Homo sapiens: one gene and its partners. The protein of the gene in region 1 purifies or fractionates together with the protein of each later gene. This does not show direct contact. Each region holds a gene or a part of one and is shown in the gene's direction. Other genes may lie near its edges.

Region 1 (7,159 bases):
TCTAGTTTATTTGTGTAGAGGTGTTTATAGTATTCTCTGATGGTAGTTTGTATTTCTGTGGGATCGGTGGTGATATCCCCTTTATCATTTTTTACTGTGTCTATTTGATTATTCTCTCTTCTTTATTAGTCTTGCTAGTGGCCTATCAATTTGGTTGATCTTTTCAAAAACCAGCTCCTGGATTCATTGATTTTTTGAAGGGCTTTTTGTTTCTCTATCTCCTTCAGTTCTGCTCTGATCTTAGTTATTTCTTGCCTTCTGCTAGCTTTTGAATGTGTTTGCTCTTGCTTCTCTAGTTCTTTTAATTGTGATGTTAGGGTGTCAATTTTAGATCTTTCCTGCTTTCTCTTGTGGGCATTTAGTGCTATAAATTTCCCTCTACACACTGCTTTAAATGTGTCCCAGAGATTCTGGTATGTTGTGTCTTTGTTCTCATTGGTTTCAAACAACATCTTTATTTCTGCCTTCATTTTGTTATGTACCCAGTAGTCATTCAGGAGCAGGTTGTTCTGTTTCCATGTAGTTAAGCGGTTTTGAGTGAGTCTCTTAATCCTGAGTTCTAGTTTGATTGCACTGTGGCCTGAGAGACAGTTTGTTATAATTTCTGTTCTTTTACATTTGCTGAGGAGTACTTTACTTCTAAATATGTGGTCAATTTTGGAATAAGTGTGATGTGGTGCTGAGAAGAATGTATATTCTGTTAATTTGGGGTGGAGATTTCTGTAGATGTCTACTAGGTCTGCTTGGTGCAGAGCTGAGTTCAATTCCTGGATATCCTTGTTAACTTTCTGTCTCGTTGATCTGTCTAATATTGACAGTGGGGTGTTAAAGTCTCCCATTATTATTGTGTGGGAGTCTAAGTCTCTTTATAGGTCTCTAAGGGCTTGCTTTATGAATCTGGGTGCTCCTGTATTGGGTGCATGTATAGGTAGTATAGTTAGCTCTTCCTATTGAATTGATCCATTTACCATTATGTAATGGCCTTCTTTGTCTCTTTTGATCTTTGTTGGTTTAAAGTCTGGTTTATCAGAGATTAGGATTGCAACTCCTGCTTTTTTTTGTTTTCCATTTGCTTGGTAGATCGTCCTCCAGCCCTTTATTTTAGCCTATGTGTGTCTCTGAATGTGAGTTGGGTCTCCTGAATACAGCACACTGATGGGTCTTGACTCTTTATCCAATCTGCCAGTCTATGTCTTTTAATTGGAGCATTTAGCCCATTTACATTTCAGGTTAATATTGTTATGTGTGAATTTGATCCTGTCATTATGATGTTAGCTGGTTATTTCGCTCATTAGTTGATGCAGTTTCTTCCTAGCATTGATGGCCTTTACAATTGGCATGTTTTTGCAGTGGCTGGTACCAGTTGTTCCTTTCCATCTTTAGTGCTTCCTTCAGGAGTTCTTGTAAGGCAGGCCTGGTGGTGACAAAATCTCTCAGTATATTTGTCTGTAAAGGATTTTATTTCTCCTTCACTTATGAAGCTTAGTTTGGCTGGATATGATATTCTGGGTTGAAAATTCTTTTCTTTAAGAATGTTGAATATTGGCCCCCACTCTCTTCTGGCTTGTAGAGTTTCTGCCGAGAGATCAGCTGTTACTATGATGGGCTTCCCTTTGTGGGTAACCTGACCTTTCTGGCTGCCCTTAACATTTTTTCCTTCATTTCAACTTTGGTGAATCTGACAATTATGTGTCTTGGAGTTGCTCTTCTCGACGAGTATCTTTGTGGTGTTCTCTGTATTTCCTGAATTTGCATGTTGGCCAGCTTCACTAGGTTGGGGAAGTTCTCCTGGATGATATCCTGAAGAGTGTTTTCCAACTTGGTTCCATTCTCCCAGTCACTTTCAGGTACACAATTCAGATGCAGATTTGGTCTTTTCACAAAGTCTCATATTTCTTGGAGGCTTTGTTCATTTCTTTTTACTCTTTTTTCTCTAAACTTCTCTTCTTGCTTCATTTCATTCATTTGATCTTCAATCACTGATACTCTTTCTTCCACTTGATCAAATCGGCTACTGAAGCTTGTGCATGCGTCACGTTCTTCTCGTGCCACGATTTTCAGTTCCATCAGTCATTTAAGGACTTCTCTACACTGTTTATTCTAGTTAGCCATTCGTCTAATCTTTTTTCAAGGTTTTTAGCTTCTTTGCAATGGGTTCAAACATCCTCCTTTAGCTCGGAGAAGTTTGTTATTACCAGTCGTCTGAAGCTTTCTTCTCTCAATTTGTCAAAGTCATTCTCTGTCCAGGTTTGTTCCATTGCTGGTGAGGAGCTGCATTCCTTTGGAGGAGAAGAGGCGCTCTGATTTTTAGAATTTTCGGCTTTTCTGCTCTGATTTATCCCCATCTTTGTGGTTTTATCTACCTTTGGTCTTTGATGATGGTGACGTACAGATGGGTTTTTGGTGTGGATGTCTTTTCTTTTTGTTAGTTTTCCTTCTAACAGTCAGGACCCTCAGCTGCAGGTCTGTTGGAGTTTGCTGAAGGTCCACTCTAGACCCTGTTTGCCTGGGTGTCACCATCGGAGGCTGCAGAACAGCAAATATTGCAGAATGGCAAATATTGCTGCCTGATCCTTCCTCTGGAAGCTTCATCTCAGAGGGGCACCCAGCTGTATGAGGTGTCAGTTGGCCCCTGCTGGGAGGTGTCTCCCAGTTAGGCTACTCGGGGGTCAGGGACCCACTTGAGGAGACAGTCTGTCCGTTCTCAGATCTCAAACTCCGTGCTGGGAGAAGCACTACTCTCTTCAAAGCTGTCAGACGGACATTTAAGTCTGCAGAACTTTCTGCTGCCTTTTGTTCAGCTATGCCTTGCCCCCAGAGGTGGGGTCTACAGAGGCAGGCAGGCCTCCTTGAGCTGCGATGGGCTCCACCCAGTTCAAGCTTCCTGGCCACTTTGTTTATCTACTTAAGCCTCAGCAATGGCAGACGCCCCTCCCCCAGCCTCGCTGCTGCCTTGCAGTTTGATCTCAGACTGCTGTGGTAGCAGTGAGCCAGGCTCCGTGGGCGTGGGACCCTCTGAGCCAGTCACGGGATATAATCTTCTGGTGTGCCGTTTGCTAAGACCGTTGGAAAAGCACAGTATTAGGATGGGAGTGTCCCAATTTTCCAGGTACCGTCTATCATGGCTTCCCTTTGCTAAGAAAGGGAATTCCCTGATCCCTTGTGCTTCCCGGGTGAGGTCATGCCTCGCCCTGCTCTGTGGGCTGCACCCAGTGTCTGAGAAGCCCCAGTGAGATGAACCCGGTACCTCAGTTGGAAATGCAGAAATCACCCATCTTCTGCGTTGCTCATGCTGGGAGCTGTAGACTGGAGCTGTTCCTATTCGGCCACTTTGGAACCTCCCCCAAAACTTTAAATATTACATACATGGTGCTTGTTCAAAATGCTTTTACATGCATTTAATATACGGACAACTGTTTCATGCATAACTTTTTATCAAATTACAGCCGTGGAATGACAAGTTACAAATGTTAAGACAATGCTCAATCGCTTATACTACACTTTCAATGAACAGTATGTACAGTTTCTGTTAATGCCTTTATTTTCTATTATGTTTGTTCTGATTGCATACATTGAAATGCAATTTTACATTTATTTGAAACTAATAAAAAATTTGGGCTTGTATTTTGCACATATTTTCCCCATTTTTCTACTAATTCATTTTTACTGTATTTTATAGAAGTACCTTTTACTGACAGATTGGAAAAATAAAGAACCCATTCTTCCCCACGGATAATCTAATAAAGAACCTGTTCTTCCCCACGGATAATCTGGGAAGCTGCTCTAAGAGGCTCATCTAGAGGCAGACAATAAAAGGGTAGAAAGAATGAGGGCCCTGAAAAAAGCTTCTGGGAAAGTAAAAACCCGAACAAAGTTTCGATAACTAAGATTTTTTTCCTGGTTAAATACACTCAACCTGTATTTGGGGTGAGTGTTAGCCGGGTACAAAGGTAGACAAAAGTTCCGAGTGCCGCCGCAATCGTCTCCCACAACATGGGTCTGAGCTACTCAAAATGAGATTTGCCTTTGGAGAAGAGTTAAGGAGCAGGGGGCGTGGCGAGCAGCGTGAGATCATCGGGAAGCGCCGCTCGTGGCGGGGGCAGAGCCGGCGCGTCATTGTCGTCATCGTTGCCCGACCGCTTTCCGGGAGACTGGAGTCGAAGGCCGTGAGGTATTTTTCTAAGGTGTAGTTTCAGTTTTTCTCCTGCTCCTGTTTAACTCCGCTTTTCCTCTCCTGGGATTCCCCTGTCATCCTCTGGGCAGACTGAGAAAATCGGAGTTTGGCTGCGTAGCCTTCCAGGAATGCAGTCTCTCACAGCTCTTCGTTGGGGCAGCATTGTTGGCAGGTCCCCCACTTCCGCTTGTTTTGGGGCTGCTTGCAGGCTTTGGCTTACCCCGGCCCCTCATTTCTCTCTTTTGCTCCGGTCTCTCTCTTTTTCTTCGTTTGTTAACCACCCCCTTCTCAAATCTTGGAAGACGAAGAAATTAAAAACAAAAATCAAAAAACATTGAAGTCTTCACAATTTTCAGCTGTTTTCAATCTTGCTTAGGGAGAGAGGCTAAAGTGGAACGTCTAGGGGAGTAACTTTACTGTGTTAGCTCCGTTTATCATTCACATTCACAGACTGCCTGCTGCTGCAGTATTAGCTCATCTGAGATAGTGGGCTAATTTCGACCTTTAGCTGAAATCTGTAGTGGGTAATCCAAGAGAGCAGTTTTTCTTGATGACCCGGATAAGTTCAGTGTAACTCAAACTTGTTTCAAAATAGCTTTAATGTCCTCAATGTTTGCTGACTACAGTTCAGTTTTGGCTTGATAAAGATGTATTTGTCGCAATGAGATGTTTGCTATCCACTTATTAACCTATTAGGACTGTCTGATGGTGGACTGAACCAAGACTTAACCGTGATTTTTTAAAAAATTAAATTTAAAAATTTTGTGGGTACATAGGTGTATATATTTATGGGGTACACGAGATGTTTTGATACAGGCATGCAATATGTAAGAATCACATGGAAAATGGGGTATCCATCCCTTCAGGCACTTATCCTTTGTGTTACAAACAATCCAGTTATACTTTTAGTTATTTAACTCTGTATTTTTGATTCAAAAACAACAGATTAGCCCTATTGAAGTACAGAGAAATGTTTGTGTTTGGTGGAAATGATAGAACTCATTGTTTTGTTGAAAGATAGTGACAAGTGTGAATAACGGTTTTTCAAAATAAAATTCTCAGTCAAAAGATACTACAGCTGCCTTCAGTTAGCTGTGTTGTATGTATCACAGTTCAAAAGTAATGTAATTTTTTTCTTAACTGCTTTTACCTTTTCAAATGGCTCTTCATATGTATTATCTCAGCTACTGTTTCCAAAGTTGACCCTTCAAGCATGGCTCTAAATAGTTCACATTGGATTAGAGTATTTGGTAATTTTCACTTTTAGTAAAATACTATCTAATGTATTGAGTGCTAACTGAGCCAGGCCCCGTTCTAATGGCTTTTATCTAGTTTATTTAATCTGTGCAACAACACTATATACTCTTATTTCAGAAATAAGATAATTGTAATAATCAACTTCCATATGTTTTGGAAGGTAATTTTGCTGCTTGATTGCTGTAATTTTGGAAATGCTTTGAATTAAACTTTGAATAGAAGTGAATTTAATTTAATGTAATTGTTCATCTCAATCTTGAGCAATATCCTCGTAATTTATATACTCTCCTATTAGACTTTGGGATAAATTTATTTTTAGATGTTAATATATTTTTTAGAAAAGGAAGAAGTCTATATTTACTCAGGAATTGTACTGTGGGACTGAAGGAGAGTTACAGACAACACTAACATGGAGTCACTGTTTGCCCAAGACAGCAATATTTATTGAGAACTTGTGTGTACATTTCATTGTTATTTTCTCCTAAGATAATGCAGTGCGAAAAAGTCATTACAGTAATTCATTACAGTAATAGAATTCTGGTGCAACAACAGCAAATGGCTCTCAAATTCCAAAAAACAATCATGTTGGATTTGTTCTTTGGCTTAGTTCATAACTGTGTATAATTATTTGGTGTAGAGATGGGAAGAGCCCTGGAATGTACATTATCGTATGTTTGTTTGGATCCATGTGGTGACTTTCTAGTATCTGTAAGCTCAAACTGTAATCTGATATTAAGAGTTTCCAAAATTACGTCTTAGGTTACTTTGATTGGTTTTAGTTAGTAAACAAATAGTTGCTAACTAACTAATACATGACAAGACATTATGTTAGTGATGTGGAGTTCAAAATGTGCCTCGACATGAATCTTCCCTTGAGCAATAGCCCAGTGAGTAAATAACCAATGGAAAGGTAGGAGGAGAGGAGTGACATGATCTGACTTAGGTTTGTTTTATTTTATTTTATTTTACTTTATTGTCTTTTGTTTTCTTTTGTTTCCTTTCCTGCCCTGCTCTGCCCTTGCCCGCCCTGCCCCACCCCATCTCGCCCCTCTTTTCTTTTGGAGTCTCACTCTGTTGCTCAGGCTGGAGTGCAGTGGCACAATCTCGGCTCACTGCAACCTCCGCCTCCTGGGTTCCAACGATTCTCCTGCCTCAGCCTCCGGAGTAGCTGGGATTACAGGCACCCGTCGCCATGCCCAGCTAATTTTTTGTGTTTTTAGTAGAGTTAGGGTTTCACCATGTTGGCCAGGCTGGTCTCGAACCCCTGACCTCAGGTGATCCGCCTGTCTCAGCCTTCTAAAGTGCTGGGATTACAGGCGTCAGTCACTGCGCCCAGCCTGACTCACGTTTTAATAGAATCTTCTCTGGCTGCTGTGTTTAAGAATAGTTTGCTGTGGGGTGGGGTAGGTGAAAACCAGGAGACTAATCACGGAGGTGTTGTAGTTCAGATGAGATGATAACATCTTAACTGGCTGGAAAGAAGTGAAGGTGGAGAAGCAGTTTAATTTTAGATGTATTTTCTAGGAAAAGCAAACAGAATTGCTTACAGATTGAAAGTGAATTGTAAGAATAAGGTTATTGTCAAAGTTTGGGGCTTGAGCAACTAGAAGAAGGGAATTGCCATTAACTGAGAAGTAGAAAACTGTGGGAGGGGCAGGTTTGTGGGAAGATTCGGAGTTCAGTTAAGGACATGATAAGTTTTTGATGTCTGTTAGTCATCTAAGTGGA
Region 2 (7,809 bases), on another chromosome or scaffold:
CTGTTCTCATTATACTGAATAAGTCTCACGAGATCTGATGGTTTTATAAAGGGGAGTTCCCCTGCAAGCACTCTGTCTGCCTGCCACCATGTAAGATGTGACTTTGCTCCTCATTTGCCTTCCGCCATGTTTGTGAGGCTTCCCCAGCCATGTGGAACTGTGAGTCCATTAAGCCTCTTTTTCTTTATAAATTACCCAGTCTTGGGTGTGTTTTTATTAGCAGCCTGAAAACGGACTAATACATACACTGAGTACCTACCACTTGGAGATACTGCACAGGGCACTGGAACCCCCAGACAGGCTGCCCCTGAAGAGCTGGGTCACAGAAATAGTCACCGATAATTAGCACAGAGCGAGCTCCAGGGGCTTCCTGACTTCCAACAGGGTAGGGACTCTATTCACCCCACTAGCTAGGGTCAGAGAGGTGAAATGACTTAGCCAAGCCCAGGCCTGGGGTAGTGGCTGAGAAACTGACTCACAATTCCTTGACAATCTGAGTTTCCTTCCTCCTCCTTTCCCTGAGCACTAAAACGTCTGCTATGATAACAGAGACAGGAAGGGAGGTGAAAATCAGGCAAACACATCTGCAGGGCAGCAGGGTATTCAATGAAGGAGTGGGCAGAGCAGGGGCAAGAAGTCGGGGACAAGTAAAGCAGCCCCACTCCTCCTTCTAATCCAATCTTCCCCAGTGAACCCAGTAATCCAATCTGTCTACAATATGCAGCCTCTCAACCTTTCCCTGACTATTTCTTCATCTCCACCTGGATAAAACTGCATCATCTTAGCCAGGCATGGTGGCTCACACCTGTAATCCCAGCACTCTGGGAGGCCGAGGTGGGTGGGTCGCCTGAGGTCGGGAGTTCAAGACCAGCCTGATCAACATGGAGAAACCCTGTCTCTACTAAAAATACAAAATTAGCCAGGCATGGTGGTGCATGCCTGTAATCCCAGCTACTCGGGAGGCTGAGGCAGGAGAATCGCTTGAACCCAGGAAGAGGAGGTTGTGGTGAGCCAAGATCATGCCATTGCACTCCAGCCTAGGCAATGAGAGCAAAACTCCACCTCGAAAAAACAAAAAACAAAACAAAACAAAAACCCTGCACCATCTAATGTGGCAGCCACCAACCACTTGTGGCTATCTTATTTTGAGACAGAGGGCTGCTCTGTCACCTAGGCTGGGGTATAGTGGTGCGATCTCGGCTCACTGCAATCTCCGCCTCCCAGGTTCAAGCGATTCTTCTGCCTCAGCCTCCCAAGTAGCTGGGACTACAGGCACACGCCATTACGCCCAGCTAATTTTTTTGTATTTTTAGTAGAGATGGGGTTTCACCATGTTGGCCAGGCTGGTCTTGAACTCCTGGCCTCAGGCAACCCGCCCACCTTGGCCTCTCAAAATGCTGGGATTACAGGCATGAGCCACCGCACCCAGCCCACTTGTGGCTACTTAAACTTAAACTCATGATAATTTAATAATATGGCCAGGCAAGGTGGCTCACGCTTGTCATCCTGCACTTTGGGAGGCTGAGGCAGGAAGATCGCTTGAGTCCAGGAGTTCAAGACCAGCCTGGAAAACATGGCAAAACCCCATCTCTACAAAGATTTAAAAATTAGCCAGGCGCAGCCAGGCACAGTGGCTTATGCCTGTAATCCCAGCACTTTGGGAGGCCGAGGCGGGCAGATCACCTTAGATCAGGAGTTCAAGACCAGCCTGGTCAACATGGTGAAACCCCATCTCTACTAAAAATACAAAAATTAACTGGGTATGGTGGCGCACGCCAGTAGTCCCAGCTATTTGGGAGGCTGAGGCAGGAGAATCACTTGAACCTGGGAAGTGGAGGTTGCAGTGAGCCGAGATCGTGCCACTGCACTCCAGCTTGGGTGACAGAGCAAGACTCCGTCTCAAAAAAAAAAAAAAAAATTAAAAATTAGCCAGGCGTAGTAGCACGTGCCTGTGGTCCCAGCTACTTAGGAGGTGGAGGTGGGGGGATTGCTTGAGCCCAGGAGGTTGAGGCTGCAGTGAGCCATGATCACACCACTGCACTCACTCCAGCCTGGGTGACAGAGTGAGACCTTGTCTCAAAAAAAGAAAAGGCTAGGCGCAGTGGCTCATGCTTTTGGAGGCCAAGACAGGCGGAACTTGAGGCCAGAAGTTCGAGACCAGCCTGGACAACATGGTGAAACCTCGTCCCTACCAAAAATACAAAAATTAGCCAGGCGTGATAGTGCATGCCTGTAATCCCAGCTACTAGGGAGGCTGAGGCAGGAGAATTGCTTGAACTCGGCAGGCAGAGATTGCAGTAAGTCAAGATCATGCTGCTGCACTCCAGCCTAGGCGAGAGAGTGAAACTCTGTCTCAAAAAAGAAAAAAAAAGAAAAAGGAAAGAGAGGTACAGAAAGAAAGAGAGAGAGAAAAGAGAAGAGAAAAGGAAAGGAAAGGAAAGGGAAAAAGAAAAGAAAAGAAAAAGGAGAGGGGAGGAGAGGAGAGGAGAAGGAGAGGAAAGAAAGAAGAAGAGAGAAAGAACAGGTGGGAGAAATAAAGGGGAAAAAACAATAACTCTTAAGATAATACAAATTTAAATATATATAAATAAAAAGTAGGGACTTCTTCCCTCCCCACTCCCCACCAAAAATGAAGTAGGGGAAGCAAGAGGAAAGGTAATCAAGAGATTGAGACAGGAGAGAAAGATTTAATCAGCCATAAATGACCTTTCCCTAGCCTGCCCCAGTCCTGCCCACCTCCTGCCCCACTTGCCCAGCCAATGGGCCCCTGGGACTGAGATCAGCTGTGGAGGATATGAACTGCTCAAAAAAAAAAAAAAAAAAAAAAGTGAAAAGGTCTCCAGCCCAAAGGCAAGAGACTGCCCTACCCACACCTTGCTCCTGCAGCCCTTCTGTATTTACCTGTTTCAAGTGACTCCGTTCCTAGATACCTACTACGTCCTACTCCTGGCCCATCTTCTTCACCCTCCTCCCGTTTGTTCCCCTACCCAGAGCTTCTTTCTACAGATTCCATCTTCCCCTCCTTATGGATTGGGGATCAGAGGATCAGACTCAACCTCACAATATCTTTTCAGATTTTTTTCCCCAGGGCCTCACCAATCCAGGCCTTCCCAAGGTCACCCCTTTCTTCTCCCCATCTCCAAGGTTAGTTTCTGTCCCTTCCCTCCACCCTCACTATCAACATTCCTATTGCCCTTAGGATGTGCCAGGTCCAGTCCTTAGCATTTTACATATTGATTTTTCACAGCCCTATGAGGTGGCCACTGTTAATATTTTAGAGAGGAAAATTAGCTCCATAGATCCAGAGAAGTGCAGTCCGTTGGCCAAGGCTACACAAGTGGAAAGCGGCAGAGCAAGGACATGCATCCACCCATGTAACCACTACTCTCCTATCTGTCAACTGTAGTTCAAAGCTCTTCTGCAACCCATTGCCTCTCCCCGTCTAAAGATAGGCTTCCACCTAGGTTTTTTGCAGTGTAATCTTGCCCTTAGCAGCATCCACCTGAAGGGATTGTGACCCTTTTGACAAGAAACAAAGCCTTCTCAAGTGTTTCTAAGAAATGTGGGCAAAGTGCCCTGTCTGTACCTCTCTCCCTCCTTTTTTCCCCTCATTAATTCAACAAATATTAATCGTCTCCTCTGTACAGTGTCCAGAACACACGAATTCTCTGTCTTGATATTCGATCAAGAGACACAGGAATCAAACAAATTTTTTACACAATTCATTTTAAAATCAGAATTGTGGCAAAGGAGCAAAGAAATACAAGGCCCTATGCAGCCTGTGACAGGGACCTGTTCTCTTCTTTCTTCTTCTTGAAGAGGGATCTTTGCCCAGAAGAAAGTCCCTCCCTTACAAAGTCAGTTTCATTCTCCAAACCCTGAGGGAGAAGGTCTTGCGGTCTTCCCCTGTTCCTCCAAGGAGCCTCCCCTGAATACCAGTGGCAGCTAATAAGGAACCCCCATCTCTCTCTTCAAGTCGTCTCCCTCAGGGCCCACAAAGAAGTTGCAAACGGGTTTTTTCCTCTCCTAAAGAAGTGGAAGTTCTTTTCGTCTCCTAAGGAAGTGGCAGATCTTCCCTTCGGTGTCTTCTCCAAGGAGTCTCCCACTCTTTTTCCCTTTTGTGACAGCCCTTCCTTCATATCCTTCAGGGACCCCACACTCTGAAGATAGCCTTTACATCCCTAATCCCCTTTGGGAAAACCGCCTGGGGCCCAGGTACTCACAGATCTAGCCAGTCCCCGAGCCCCAGGCTGCCGCAGCAGCAGGAGGGCAGCCTGGCTCAAACCACGGTTTAGCCGCCAGACCCTCGCTGCAGCGATCGCTACCGCCATCTTGGCTAACAACCACTCAGCGGTCCGGCACTCACGTAGGCTAGATTCGGGGCTGCCTCTTTATGTGCCTGACGCAAACTCCAGCACCATCTGACAAGAAAACCATCTTCTTCCCGTTCTGTGGTAGATAGAATGCACAGAGATTTGGAGAAAAAAAAATCTATCTACCCAAAATTTTCTCCAATCGCCTCATTGTAGTTACTCCTGTAACAGGCAAAGAAGAGGGCAACCTGACCAGGGCCTCAGGGATTTAGGGCCCGGGGGCCCAGAGTAAAGCGGATCAATGCCAAGGCCTGCCTTCTGTTCCCAAATGTCCAATGGCGTTGCCAGAGTTAGGAGGTGGGACTGGGCGGAGCCAGATTGTTGGTAAACGCTAAGCCACGTGCGGACGCCCAGGAGGATGGCCCAGCCCGGCGCGTGCGCACTGGTTACGCAGCCTGTTTGCGGCGCGCGCTGCCAGGCGGAAGTGACAACTGCAGCCGCACGTGGGCTCGGCGCGATGGAGGAGGAGACGCATACTGACGCCAAAATCCGTGCTGAAAATGGAACAGGGTCCAGCCCTCGGGGTCCTGGCTGCAGCCTCCGGCACTTTGCCTGCGAACAGAACCTGCTGTCGCGGCCAGATGGCTCTGCTTCCTTCCTGCAAGGTAAGAACTTCACCCAGGTCTTTCTTTTGGAGAGGGACTACCGTGTACTGTGCAACCGAGTGCCCACCTCCTCACGATACCAGCTGGTAAATGTCACTCCTGCGTTGATGCATGATTTCTTGTCCGATTGAATACTACTAAATACGCAGGGATACACACATCTCTCCCTCACGACTAGAAAGGAGAAGATAGTTCCATCTTTGTAACTATCTCTGAGAATGAGAGGAGGGGCAGACTGTCCGCCCAAGAATTGATATTTCAGAATAGGGAAAATCACCTCGCCAGGGTAAATATCCCCCTTAACTCGATTCCTCCTCCACCCTCCCACCCCCACCCCCCACACACACACCCTCTAGGTCCTTGCATCCCGGACTGAAGCAAACCTGTCTATTTGCATACTGTGGACTGTGGCGGATCTTTCACCCACGTAAATACTCCTCAAATTGAAGATAATGTCATTGCGCTGGGTTGAGAAATACATCCCCACCGCTACCTCACTGCATCTCTCCACACAAGTAAATATCCCTAAGATTAGGGCAAGTCAAAAAAAAAAAAAAAAAAAAGATTAGGGCAAGTCTTACCTATAGAGCAAATATCCCCTTTTCCTAGCTAAATAACTCTCAGAAGTAGATTAACTCCAAGAATATTTCTCTTTAACGTTTGAGACGGGAGGCCGGGGGCGGTGGCTCACGCCTGTAATCCCCACACTTTGGGAGGCCAAGACCTGTGGCTCACCTGAGGTCAGGAGTTCGAGACCAGCCTGGCCAACATGGCGAAACCCTGTCTCTACTAAAAATACAAAAACTAGCCAGGCATGGTGGCGGGCGCCTGTAATCCCAGCTACTCGGGAGGCTGAGGCAGGACAATCACTTGAACCTGGGAGGCAGAAGTTGCAGTGGGCCGAGATCGTGCCATTGTACTCCAGCGTGAGCGACAAAGCAAGACTCTGTCTCAAAAAAAAAAAAAATTGAGACAGCGTCTCACGATGTCACCCAGGTTGGTCTTGAACTCCTGGGCTCAAGCAATCCTCCTCCCAAAGTGCTCATACAGGTATGAGCCACCACGCCCAGCCCCAATACATTTTAACAAAATTTGGCTGCTGTGTTGATTGTGGGGAGTATGGGGGAAAACAGGGAGGTGATGGTGGCTCCAGCCAGAGCAGGAGTAGTGGAGGTGATGAGATTCTGGATGTAGTTTGAAAGTAATACGGACAAAACTTACGTATAGTTTGGTTTGAGTGCGAGGAAAAAGATTCAGGCATAACTAAGGTTTCTGCCCAGATCTGTACAAGTCTGGAAATCAGAAGAGAGACCCAAGCTGGACATAGGCAATTTGGAACTCTCTGGCTATATAGATGGTATTTCAGGCTATTGCCTGAACGAAGTGAGTGTAGATGGAAAAGAGAAGAGGTCCCAGGACCAAGCCCTAGGCCTTCCAACTTGAGCAGTCAGAGACATGTGACAAGCTAGCAAAGGAGACTCAGAAGGAACGCCCAGAGAGTTAGGGGGAAACCAGGAGATGGTGGTGACCTGGGGCCAAGAAAAGAGCATGTCTGAGATGTGAGGGCTGACCAGCTGTTTCAGCCTTACTGACAGCCGGGTCATGGGAGGGTTGATCATTTGGAGGTCAGTGGTGACGATGTTGAGCTGCCGCAATGGAGTGGTGGGGTCACAGAAAAGGAAGAAGAGGCAGCTGTTCAGGAGTTCTGCTGTAAGAGGATCAGATAAGTGGGGCAGGAGTTGTAGATTGTTGTGGGGTCAACAGGGGAGAGAATTGCTGGAGCCACGTCTTCAAGAAGGTGAGAGGGGAGAGACTCTTGTGCTCGGGCAAAACACAGGCAGTTCATCTGGAGCCAGAGGCAAGTTCTGTTTTGGTAACTTCTCCAGTCCTCAGGGCAGTTTCTCCTGGAACTAAGCATACCTTCCGTGTAAGGGCAAATTGGGCTTCCCAGGAAATACGGCCTTAACCAAGGACCTTCCCAGGCCCTCCCTCAGGCTTAGCGCTTATGCTGAATTGAGATACCTAAAGTTTCTTCGAACGTAAGAATTAAGAAGAGGCCGGGTGCAGTTGCTCACAGCGGTAATCCCAGCACTTTGGGAGGCCTCTGAGGTCAGGAGTTCTTTTTTTTTTTTTCTTTTTTTTTTTTTGAGATGGAGTCTCGCCCTGTCGCCCAGGCTGGAGTGCAGTGAAGTGATCGTGGCTCACTGCACCCTCCACCTCCCGGGTTCAAGCAATTCTTCTGCCTCAGCCTCCTGAGTAGCTGGGACCACAGGTGCGTGCCACCGCGCCCGGCTAATTTTTGTGGTTTTTAGTAGAGACGGGGTTTCACCATGTTGGCCAGGCTGATCTTGAACTCCTGACCCTGTGATCCACCTGCCTCAGCCTCCCACAGTGCTGGGATTACAGGCGTGAGCCACCTCGCTTGGTTGAGGTCAGGAGTTCTGAGACCAGATTGGCCAACATGGTGAAAACCCATCTCTACTAAAAATACAAAAATTAGTCGGATGTGGTAGCACGCACCTGTAATCTCAGCTACTCTGGAGGTTGAGGTACAAGAATCACTTGAGCCTGGGAGGCGGAGGTTGCAGTGAACTGAGATTGCGCCACTGCACTCCAGCCTCCTGGGTGACAGAGGGAAACTCTGTCCCAAAAAAGAAAATAGAGACAGGAGTCTTCCTATGCTGCTCAGGCTGGTCTCAAACTCCTGGCCTCAAGCAGTCCTCCCACCTGGGCCTCCATAGTGCTGGGATTACAGGTGTGAGCCACCATGCCTGGCCTAAAATGTATTTTTTTTTTTTTATTGAGACTAAGCCTTGCTGTTATTGTCCAGG
Region 3 (7,035 bases), on another chromosome or scaffold:
CAGTATGGAATGGTTGTAGAGGGTGCTTATTTGTGATTTTGGCACTGTTAGACTCTCAGAACAGGGCTTGGCAAACTTTCTGTAAAGGACCATATGATAAATATTTTGGTCTTATGAGCCAGACAGTCTCTGTTACAACTACTCAGCTCTGCCAGTGTTGTTCAAGACCGAATGACCATGGTTGTGTACCAGTAAAACTTTATCGACGACAACAGACATCTAGCCTGAGGACTGTATTATGCTGATGCCTGCTCTGAGTCCTCACTAGTTTTGGAATGTGTTCTGAAATGCTCTAGAGTAGGAGAATCGAACTTGTACCTAAGTCTGGAGGTGCTTGATTCATATTCACAGGGAGTTCTGTCCTTTCTATGTGTACAGAACATATGTATATGGCTGTTGTATACCAAAAGAATAGGTACATGACTAAATGGGAGAAAAAAGGGCAGTTGGGCAGTATTGATGAGTTTTACCACGAGGAATATTAGTGATGAAATGAGGCATCTGCATTTAAAGAAAACCATCCCAGAAAGAGAATCTGGAAAAATAAGATAGGTCTAGGTTCATTTCCATTCAGAGAACTTTCACTGAGTGAGCTCTTTTGTGTACCAGGGGTGCCGCCTAAGTACCAATGATACAAGATGAACAAGAGTCATGGTCTATTCAGAATCGTAGTCCTGGGAGACACCAAAGCAGCACGATGGTGAACAATATTCCAGTGTTGATGAGGCTGTCTTGAGAATGTGCTTCTTTATAGGAGCAGACCTAGGAAGAGCCAAGCCAAATGCCAACCAGGAAGTCTTACCAAAGGACACACACTGTAGGCTTAAAAGAGTAAATATTTTGCCAGGCAGAAAATGGAAACGTGTTAAGTCGCAAAGGCAAAAGGACTGGGAAGTATAGCGTGCACATTCCAGAAACTGCAGTTCTTTCCTGGGATGAGGATGTACACACAGGTAAAATGGATGACGACTGCAAAACACTAGTCTGCAAACTTGTTTTCTTTTACTTTTTACTTAAAATAGTGATAGATTCACAGGAAGTTGCAAAAAGTGTACAGGGATATCCCGTGCGTCCTTCATGCCACCTCCCCTAGCGGCAACATTTTACAACACTAGGATATGATAAAGAGCCAGGACATTGACAGTGAGCTGACGCAGATTTCACCATTTTACACGCACTCATTTTGCGTGGACGGTTGCTGGGTCATATGGTAAGTGTATGTTTAGTTTGCTAAGAAACTGCCATGCTGTTTTCCACAGTGGCTGTACCATTTACTTTCCCACCAGCTATGTTTGAGTGATCAGTTTCTTCACATTCTCTTCAGCACTTGATGTTATCACCATCATGTGTTACTTAACACATGATTTAACAACAGGGATACGTTCTGAAACATGCATTGTTAGGTGATTTCATCATTGTGAGAGCATCATAGGGTTCATCTACGCAAACCTGGATGGTATAGCCTACCACACACTTAGGCTATATGGTACAGCCTGTTGTTCGTAGGCTGCAAACCTATACAGCATGCTACTGTACTGAATACTGTAGGCAGTTGTAACACAGTGGTGTCTGTGTATCTAAACATATCTAGATATAGAAAAGGTACAATAAAAATGCAGCATTGTAATCTTATGGGACCACTGTCATATATGGGTTCCATCGTCGACCAAACATCATTTTGCAGTGCATGACTATTTTATTCGTGAACGTTAAGGTTTTTTCATTTAACTTAGTAGTCATTGTTAAAGTGCTTATGCCTAAAAAGGCTTATGTTTGGAAAAGGTGGAATAGAAGGAGGAGAAATATGGGACCTGGGCCGGGCGCAGCGGCTCACACCTGTAATCCCAGCACTTTGGGAGGCCGAGGCGGGTGGATCACAAAGTCAGGAGTTTGAGACCAGCCTGGCCAAAGTGGTGAACCCCCGTCTCTACTAAAAACAGAAAAATTAGCTGGGTGTGGTGGCAGGCGCGTAATCTCAGCTACTCGAGAAGCTGAGGCAGGAGAACCTCTTGAACCTAGGAGGCAGAGGTTGCAGTGAGCTGAGATCGTGCCACTACACTCCAGCCTGGGCGACAGAGTGAGACTCTGTCTCAAAAAAAAAAAATAAAAAAAAAAATAAAAAAGAAATATCGGACCTGAATAAGGGAAAGAAATGGGGGATACATAGAAACCAGTGGAAGCTGAAACCTAACTGCTAGGAGGCTTCTGGGTATTTTCTGATTTTATTTTCTCCAGTGTTGATATTTTATCTTGTTGCTGTGGTTAGCCTCTTAAGTTTGTTCACTTGTTCCCTGAAGAAATACAGGTATTCATGCTAGTGAGAGACTGGCAGCAGGACTGTTATTTACTGCCATATTTTGAGTCAACTTTCTGCAGATTTGATAAGAGCAGCTCAAGAGTTTAGCAGCATTTCAGAGGAAAAATAAAAACGAAGAGCAGACTTATAGATGTACCTTTGCTTCTGCCTACATTTATCGGGCTCTTACTGTGCTTCAGTCATCATATTGGGACAGATGAAGGAGATGACCCAGACACCCAGTCCTTAAGGTCTCCAGAAAAGATAGATGCTCAGAAAGTTCAGATGTGGTGAGTCTATTGGAGGGAGCCATGGAAGCATTTAGGACAGAGGCACTGATTTTACTGGCACTCATAGAAGTCTAGTAGCTTTACCTATGTCAGACGGGCGAGGAGTTGGCCAGGTGGAAGAGGATAAGAAGGGCATTTCAACCCCAGATCAGCAGGTGCCAAAGCCAGTGGGCTCTGTGGGTGAGCACAAGACCTTCGAATGTGGTGTCTTAGCCCTTAAGTTTTCCGAAGGAAATATACATTGTGCATTTTCTCATGCCCTGACACAAGCCCTCATCGTCTAGTGTAAAGTTGGAAGGGTAGAGCTAAACCGTTTGATCACTTGCCCCAACCCTCAATCTTGAGATGGGTTCCATAGATAAATGAAGGAGAACAAGTAGAAGAAGAAAATTATTTGGGGTTTCCTCAGTTCTAAAATGGGAAAAGTTTCTGACATTGATTTTGTTTGTTTTCACAGTTTATGCAAAGGGGACTGGACTCAGAAACCAAGAAACAACTAGAAGAAGAAGAAAAGAAAATCATTAGTGAAGAGCACTGGTACTTGGATTTGCCAGAGCTTAAAGAGAAAGAGTAGGTTTATTAAAATTGATACTGATGATGCTTGTGGCATTCAGAAGGAAACTCCTGGTAAATTTAACTCATCATTCCGGTGACATAAAGCCCATGAAATTGTTTCTGTTCAGTTTATTGATTTAGTAGCACAACTAAAAAATATTAAACCTATAGAAGTTGTACATGGATTTATACATTTTTACTACTCCCCCTCCCAGCCACTATTTTGTCCTTTTTTACATTGAATGAAGGAACCTAGCCCACATATCTCTGATAGTAACAGCAGACCTTTGGGGAAGCTGTAATGTTCTCTCTATCACCTTAAGTTCTAAAGATTAGGGGTGTACTTCAGGTCTCTCCAGTTTTGTTTCGGTTACAGAGTTCATTAGGTTGAGCATTTTAAGGCAGGTCAGAAGTTTTTGTTTCTTCTTTTAAATTGTTACTACTTGTAATACCATCCATTTTAGCTAACATTTACTGAATCTATAGTGTGTACCAGGAACTGGGCTAAACACTTTACATCTGTAGTTATTGAATCTTCGTAGCAAACTTAGGAACTGCCTCCTATGATTCTGTCACTTTGTAGTTGAGGAACTGAGCTTAAGGGAGGGTAACTTGCCCAGCTTCACCCAGCTAGTCAGTGCTGAAGGCTGGGGTAGACAGTTTCTGGCCCACCCCTAAGCTTGGCTGGTGCCTGATCAACAATTTTGAATGAAGGAGTGTTGGATTTATTTCATCCATTAATTTAGCTGAATCCTTCTGGAAGCTATTTTTCATTTTTCCCTGATACTTTCCTCACCTTAGTAAGCTCTGTTGTATGGTAGTTTTACTTAAACTTTGGTCAAATGACTGAAGATGCTGCTTACTGTCTTGAGGCACATTTATGTGTTTCCATTCTGTACCTGATGTTTGGGCTTTGATTTGGAATGTTATATTCCCCTGTTCATTTGGCTGACCTCTGGACATTGTTTGAAGGTTAGATACCCTTCTCTAAAGATAGAAAGTATGTCCCACCAGGAGGGATCGGGAGAAGGTACTTTTTTTCTCTGCTTCTCAGAGGAAGCAAGATGTTGGTGAGGAGGGAGAAGATAGTGCCAGGGGCAGGGTCACAGGGAGGAAGGGACCTTTGCTGCTGGAGCTATAATTTACTTTTATGCCTTAAGTAAACTTGCCAAAGTGTTCCTTCCAGTTGTTTATTAAAGAGCAGGACTGTTTCTATCTTGTTTCCAGTATTTTTCCCCTAATACAGCATATTATTCCCAGAAAATGACCTTTACATTTCTTTCTGGGAAGGTAAATAATGCCTTTTTGCCATTACTCAGCATCCTGTTTATGTATAGGTGTGTATATCAGCTCAGGATGTTGGCAGGAGAAGATGACACTCTCAGACTGAGGAGAGACTATCAAGGTGTGGGTGGGGCATAGGGGGGCCCCTCGGGGCAGTGCAGCACCTCCTAGCATGTGTAGTGGGAGTGATTACCACCTGAGCTTGCAGAGTCAACGGGTGGGTGGGGAATAGCTGCTACCGAATCTGCAGATAAGTTGTGTAGAGAGAGCACCTTACAGGAGCTGCTACCTCCATTCACGGGTACGGCCAGCCCAAGGTCATCCTAGCAAGGGAGCCAGGTACCTGGCAGCAAAGGAGCCCTTCCGTGCATTACGTTCAAGTCAGCCTCCCAGGCCAGAGAAACAGGTGAAGACGGGAAGTAGGTCTGGAGGGGTGAATGGATGACATGTCCTTGGTATACGTGTTGTATTGAGTTGTTGTTTTTAACACTCTAAATAGGGAGATCATGGAATGGATTGGTTGATTAAGCACATGGGCTCTGAAGTCAGGCAGACCTGGGTTTGATGCCCAGCTCCGCCAGTTGTTTACTTGTCACCTTGGGTGAGTTACTTAACCTGTTTTGTGTCATTTGTGTATTGGGTATGATGATAGTACCTGTCCAGTACATTCCGAGAAGTAGATGAGGTAATATATGTAAAACAGTCACCATAACACCAGGCATAAAGCACAGTGATTGTCACCATTGTGTGTATTTCCTTATATCTGAATATATGAAGTACACCCATTCCTTTCTACTCACTTATGTTTGTGTATCCTTTTTTGCTAGTGTTGTCTTAACTATTCTGTGAATTTGGAGATTGCATGTGTCTGTGCTCTGAAAGTCTCGACTTTCCCATTTTTAATGTCAGCCGTATCAGTCTGTAATTCAGTGAAGATAATTAGGGCTATTCAGTGTTAACACTGCCTCACAGGGGACACTTTTAGCCAGTGGCTAGACCATGTAGGGGAATGATGATCTAGCTGCTGTGCCTCAACTTGGAACAACTGAAGGGCATTCCTGACTCCAGAGCTCTCATATGTGGCTGAGGCCTTAGTGTAGCCACATTGCCCATTATCTTCTCCCTCTGCCCAATCCTTCTTTCTCTGTTTTCCTAGAAGGGCATCTGCTGAACAACACTGCCTGCTAAGTTTTCTGCATATATGTCTGTCTCAGAGTCTGTTTCCAGGGAACCCGATATAGTGTGAATTCCTAGGAGTGAAATTTACCAGATGAAAGATTTTGCTATCTATTGCCTTATTGTTTTTTTCCCCAAGGATATGGTCCAGAAAGAGTGTGCAAGTATAGGCAGTTTAATTCCTCCTTTGCCGTAGCAAGTTGTTTAAGAAGTATTTTTGGCTATTGTACATCTTATACTTGTGTTTTGTGGTCTGTTTGGAGTCAGAAGCTATAGGGACCTGAAACTAACAAGTTAGCCTGCCACACTTTCACTGATGCTGGTGGAAGATAGGAACCTTCTGGGTCTGAGATGTAGGGGAGGGACAATAGCCTTTCCTTCCACCCATTTGAAGTTCATTAGTTGGGGTCCCTGTAACAAAAGACAGATTAACAAAGAGAAAGGTATACACTTTTATTTCACAAAAGTTTTAGGTGACACAGGAGCCTTCATAAGAAAATGAATACCGAAGAACTGGTTGAACCTGAGTGTTTTTATGTTAGCTTTGATGAAGAGTGGAAAGTTGTGAAGAAATATGATGGGAGCAAGGGGTATGAACGAAGAGTAATAAGCCAGGAGAAACTTAGCAAGTCTTTTGTTCAGATTCCTCTCTCTGTCCCTTCTTCTGAGATAAGGATGTTGCTTTCCTCTGAGTGTAGGGAGGGCACCTCTTATGTGAGATGCTTTTATGACCTGCTTCAGGGGACAGTCAGAAAATCCTACCTGCACGTCATTTTTCAGATTCCTCCAGTGTAAAATTTTCAGTATGCCAAGATGCCATATTTTGGGAGTAGTGTCTCCTGAACACCATCAGAAACAAAGGACTTACTGTACAGCAAGCAGCACAAGCATCAAGTTTGCGTCATTTCTCTTTTGTCCCCAACTCCTATGAGGGATGGCGTGAAGTGGCCCAGGTGGATGCTGTGCACCCAGTGGATTTGCATCATAGCTGAGATCTCCTGAGCTTAGAAAACTGGAACCTTGGATAACGGACCACAAGCAGACTTGCCTTCGGCCCCAAGAGAGGCATCTGTATTATGCTGGACAGTAAGCAAATCTGCCCTTCGCTTTAGAGGAAGACTGTTTTTCAAGGCTGCTCGCTATGCAGATATCCTTGCAAAGATAGTCCAGAGCAACCGGGCAGTTAGTGCCTCACTCAAAAAATGTGCAGGAATGTGAGACCCACTGAGAAGGGTTTTCTAACTGGAGTTTTGCCATGGTATTTGTGGCTTTAGGCAAGTCCAGCTTTTTCTGAGCAGTAGTTTCTCATCTGCGAAATTTATGAAATAATTTTGTGGGTGTGTTTTAGCCTGAAAATTATCCTCATTAATGAAAATTGGATAATTAAAATACAAAAAGAGGTAAGTTTTGAAATATTTCACTTGCTTGCCAACT
Region 4 (2,785 bases), on another chromosome or scaffold:
GAAAGCAATGTTCAGATTCTGAAACTTCAAGCCAAGATGTTTACATATAATATCCCAACATGCCTGGCCACCTGGAAAATGTAATGCAACAATCATGTACATGTTTTTATAGCTATTGCTTTTATTTATAAGGTTTGCTCCAGACAGGTAAATCTGAAATGACATCTATATATATATATATATATATATTTTTTTTTTTTTTTTTCCTGGACAGATTGCTATTCTTAATTTAGATTTGTTTTTAGCATTTACTGAGGTTTAATGAGAGTGAGTACTCATTGAATAGCCTCTAAAAGCAAAAAGCGTAGACTTTTAATTTTCTTTGAAGGACAACATTTAGGTGACAGTACTGTTATCAAACAAATCTGCTACAGACATTTTAAGACCACCTCTTGAAATGGTGGTGTGTCACCTGTTGTAGTCTGATTTCTTCTTTCTTTTAAAGGTGTTAGTGCTAGGTATTTTTGACTAGTAATTATGAGGTGTTTTTTTTTTGTTGTTGTTGTTGTTTTTTTTTTCTCCTGTGAACGTTATTTATGTTCAAAACACTGGTCTGCTTTTTTCTTGTAAAGTTGATAAAAATTGTTGAATTTTTCTTTTCACTATAGGTTTTCCTCCTTGGAAGTTTAGCCTGTTAACTTTCAGGAAGTTTTGTACTCAGATTCCCACAGTCAGTATTCTGCCAGTGGTGGTGTTTCATTTTGTTCAAAGATATATAAATTTTTCTTTTCCTTTTTCTATATTTCTTTTTTTTTTTTTTTCTCTTAGAGCCATTGCTGCTGAGATTGTTCTAAAGGGACAAAGAGAGGTAAGCCATGGTTGAATCTCAGATGGGTCACTTTTAAAAAGTTTTTCTGTCTCTTTTGTTGACTTCTCAATTTAAAAGAATTAAAGCACAGAAGTTAACATTTCATGCACACTAAGAACCAAGTGGGGAAACAAAAGTAGTTAACATTTTAAGAGTACCAAATATTCGGAAACTCCAAAACTCAGCATAACCATTTTGTCTCAGATGTTATTGTGAATTACCATTCTTTAAACAGATGGAATTATGAAGGTGTTTTTCATTATATTTTCTGATGGAATTGTGTGTATATCTATCTTACAGGTCCACCGTTTATATCAGAGAGCCTTACAGAAGTTACCTCTTTGTGCATCACTGTGGAAAGATGTAATGCTTTTTATCTTTTATTTTATCTCGATGTTTTCCTGTAAATTTTCTGCATGTGCCATATCCATTGATGTGGTAATGCTCAAACTCTAGCTAAGTCTTACTTCTATGCTTCCCTGTCTTTTACAGCAACTCTTGTTTGAAGCATCAGAAGGAGGTAAAACTGATAACCTGAGAAAACTAGTTTCCAAGTGCCAAGAGATTGGAGTCAGCCTAAATGAGCTCTTAAATTTAAACAGTAACAAAACAGAAAGCAAGAATCACTGAACACTGGGTGCAGTCAGTTCTAAGTCCTTATAATAATTGCCAAAATTATTTGAATGATTCTTCAAGATTAGGCTGATCCCTGGCTAAGGTCTGTGTAAGGCAGACAAGCGTTATTGATCATATCAAGTTCCCTACAATATCCTGTCCTCAAAACCGGAAGCAATGAACATGATCCTCTTCGGTTGGATAAATGAACTTCCTGTTTGGCCTGCTTCTAGGCCCTGCCAGATTCTCATAACATCATATACGTAAGTATAGTTCCTCAAAGTGACTGACATTTATTTTAATTTTGCTTTGTTTTTTTTTATTTTCTCCCCCATTCCTTTATTTTGTGTTATTCCTGACTCACTTGACACTCTCTGATGCCTGAGAGATTCCTGTTTGGGATTTAATATCCAGGGCTGTGTTTACAGTAAAAAAAGCAGGCAGTCCCTTTTAGTTTTTCCTTTTTAAATTTTTTTGAGATTCTTCATTTCAGGATTTAAAACTATAGCAGTCCATCTTAAGGAAAGTGTAACTGCCATGGCCACAAGTCTGCTAGTTGCACTTGAATGCTCTATCAGGGTTGTTTATTACCCTTTCTACGTTCTGGACTCCTTGCCGAGACTGTTTAACTTGAAGATTAAAGAAACTATTGCAAATGCCAGTGCATCAGAACCTAAGAGTGGTCAAATATTATGTGCAATTTTTTTGTAAAGAAATTTTAATTTATAATAAAGTTTAACAGTTTAAAGAACAGTTAATATTTGAACTGCTTTGTATTGAAATACTACTTTGTAGTATTGAAATTGTTTATATACTTTTTTAATATAAGTTAACTTTCTAAAAACTCTTGCTGTCTTTATTCACTTTTCACACTGGTGGGAAAGGGTTGAAGTCGGAGATACGGATATTCACCATAACTTATAGCAATACTTTTTTATCTTGAAACTGCTTTCCCATTAAAAAAAAAAAAATTAATGACTTTTTAATTCATGAGAAGATGGATACTGTTGTGAGGACAGTGAACAGAGAGGTTTGCACTACCATTAAATTCCTTGTTCTCAAATTCTCAGTGTTTAGAAAGTGCCTCCCAACCGTAGTTTGAATGATTTGCCTAGTGACATGCCATCTTATGTTGAATATCAGTGTGATTGAATGCAAAGGAGACCTTGCTTTTTATTTTGTTTTCAGTTTATATTTGGTTGTTTTAACCTTGGCAGGAAAAATGTTAATGACACAACGCACACTGGCACAAATCTGATCTTAGAACTACATGTGCTTGAACTGTTAGAGGCAGAGCAGCAACCCCATGAAATACTAGGAAACTTGTACATGTTTACATTTGTATAATGCTCACTAGAAATA

Evidence for each region.
Region 2: the proteins of C1D (region 1) and EXOSC5 purify together in Homo sapiens (affinity purification with mass spectrometry; 5 studies listed by BioGRID and IntAct, with this or other methods). This does not show direct contact.
Region 3: the proteins of C1D (region 1) and MPHOSPH6 purify together in Homo sapiens (co-immunoprecipitation; 4 studies listed by BioGRID and IntAct, with this or other methods). This does not show direct contact.
Region 4: the proteins of C1D (region 1) and ZFC3H1 purify together in Homo sapiens (co-immunoprecipitation; 3 studies listed by BioGRID and IntAct, with this or other methods). This does not show direct contact.

Annotation. Positions count from the first base shown.
Region 1 is NC_000002.12:68,059,970-68,067,128, reverse strand, and holds the start of C1D (nuclear nucleic acid-binding protein C1D), read left to right. Parts: upstream 1-4,124; 5' UTR 4,125-4,171; exon of another isoform or gene 4,172-4,184; intron 4,185-7,159. UniProt on the Homo sapiens protein: Plays a role in the recruitment of the RNA exosome complex to pre-rRNA to mediate the 3'-5' end processing of the 5.8S rRNA; this function may include MPHOSPH6.
Region 2 is NC_000019.10:41,394,350-41,402,158, reverse strand, and holds the start of EXOSC5 (exosome complex component RRP46), read left to right. Parts: upstream 1-4,799; 5' UTR 4,800-4,830; coding exon 4,831-4,978; intron 4,979-7,809. Other genes in the region: BCKDHA (2-oxoisovalerate dehydrogenase subunit alpha, mitochondrial isoform 1 precursor), read right to left, coding at 4,224-4,331. UniProt on the Homo sapiens protein: Non-catalytic component of the RNA exosome complex which has 3'->5' exoribonuclease activity and participates in a multitude of cellular RNA processing and degradation events.
Region 3 is NC_000016.10:82,160,203-82,167,237, reverse strand, and holds part of MPHOSPH6 (M-phase phosphoprotein 6), read left to right. Parts: intron 1-2,297; exon of another isoform or gene 2,298-2,586; intron 2,587-3,043; coding exon 3,044-3,156; intron 3,157-7,035. UniProt on the Homo sapiens protein: RNA-binding protein that associates with the RNA exosome complex. Involved in the 3'-processing of the 7S pre-RNA to the mature 5.8S rRNA and play a role in recruiting the RNA exosome complex to pre-rRNA; this function may include C1D.
Region 4 is NC_000012.12:71,609,081-71,611,865, reverse strand, and holds the end of ZFC3H1 (zinc finger C3H1 domain-containing protein), read left to right. Parts: coding exon 1-80; intron 81-768; coding exon 769-808; intron 809-1,108; coding exon 1,109-1,171; intron 1,172-1,300; coding exon 1,301-1,438; 3' UTR 1,439-2,267; downstream 2,268-2,785. UniProt on the Homo sapiens protein: Subunit of the trimeric poly(A) tail exosome targeting (PAXT) complex, a complex that directs a subset of long and polyadenylated poly(A) RNAs for exosomal degradation. The RNA exosome is fundamental for the degradation of RNA in eukaryotic nuclei.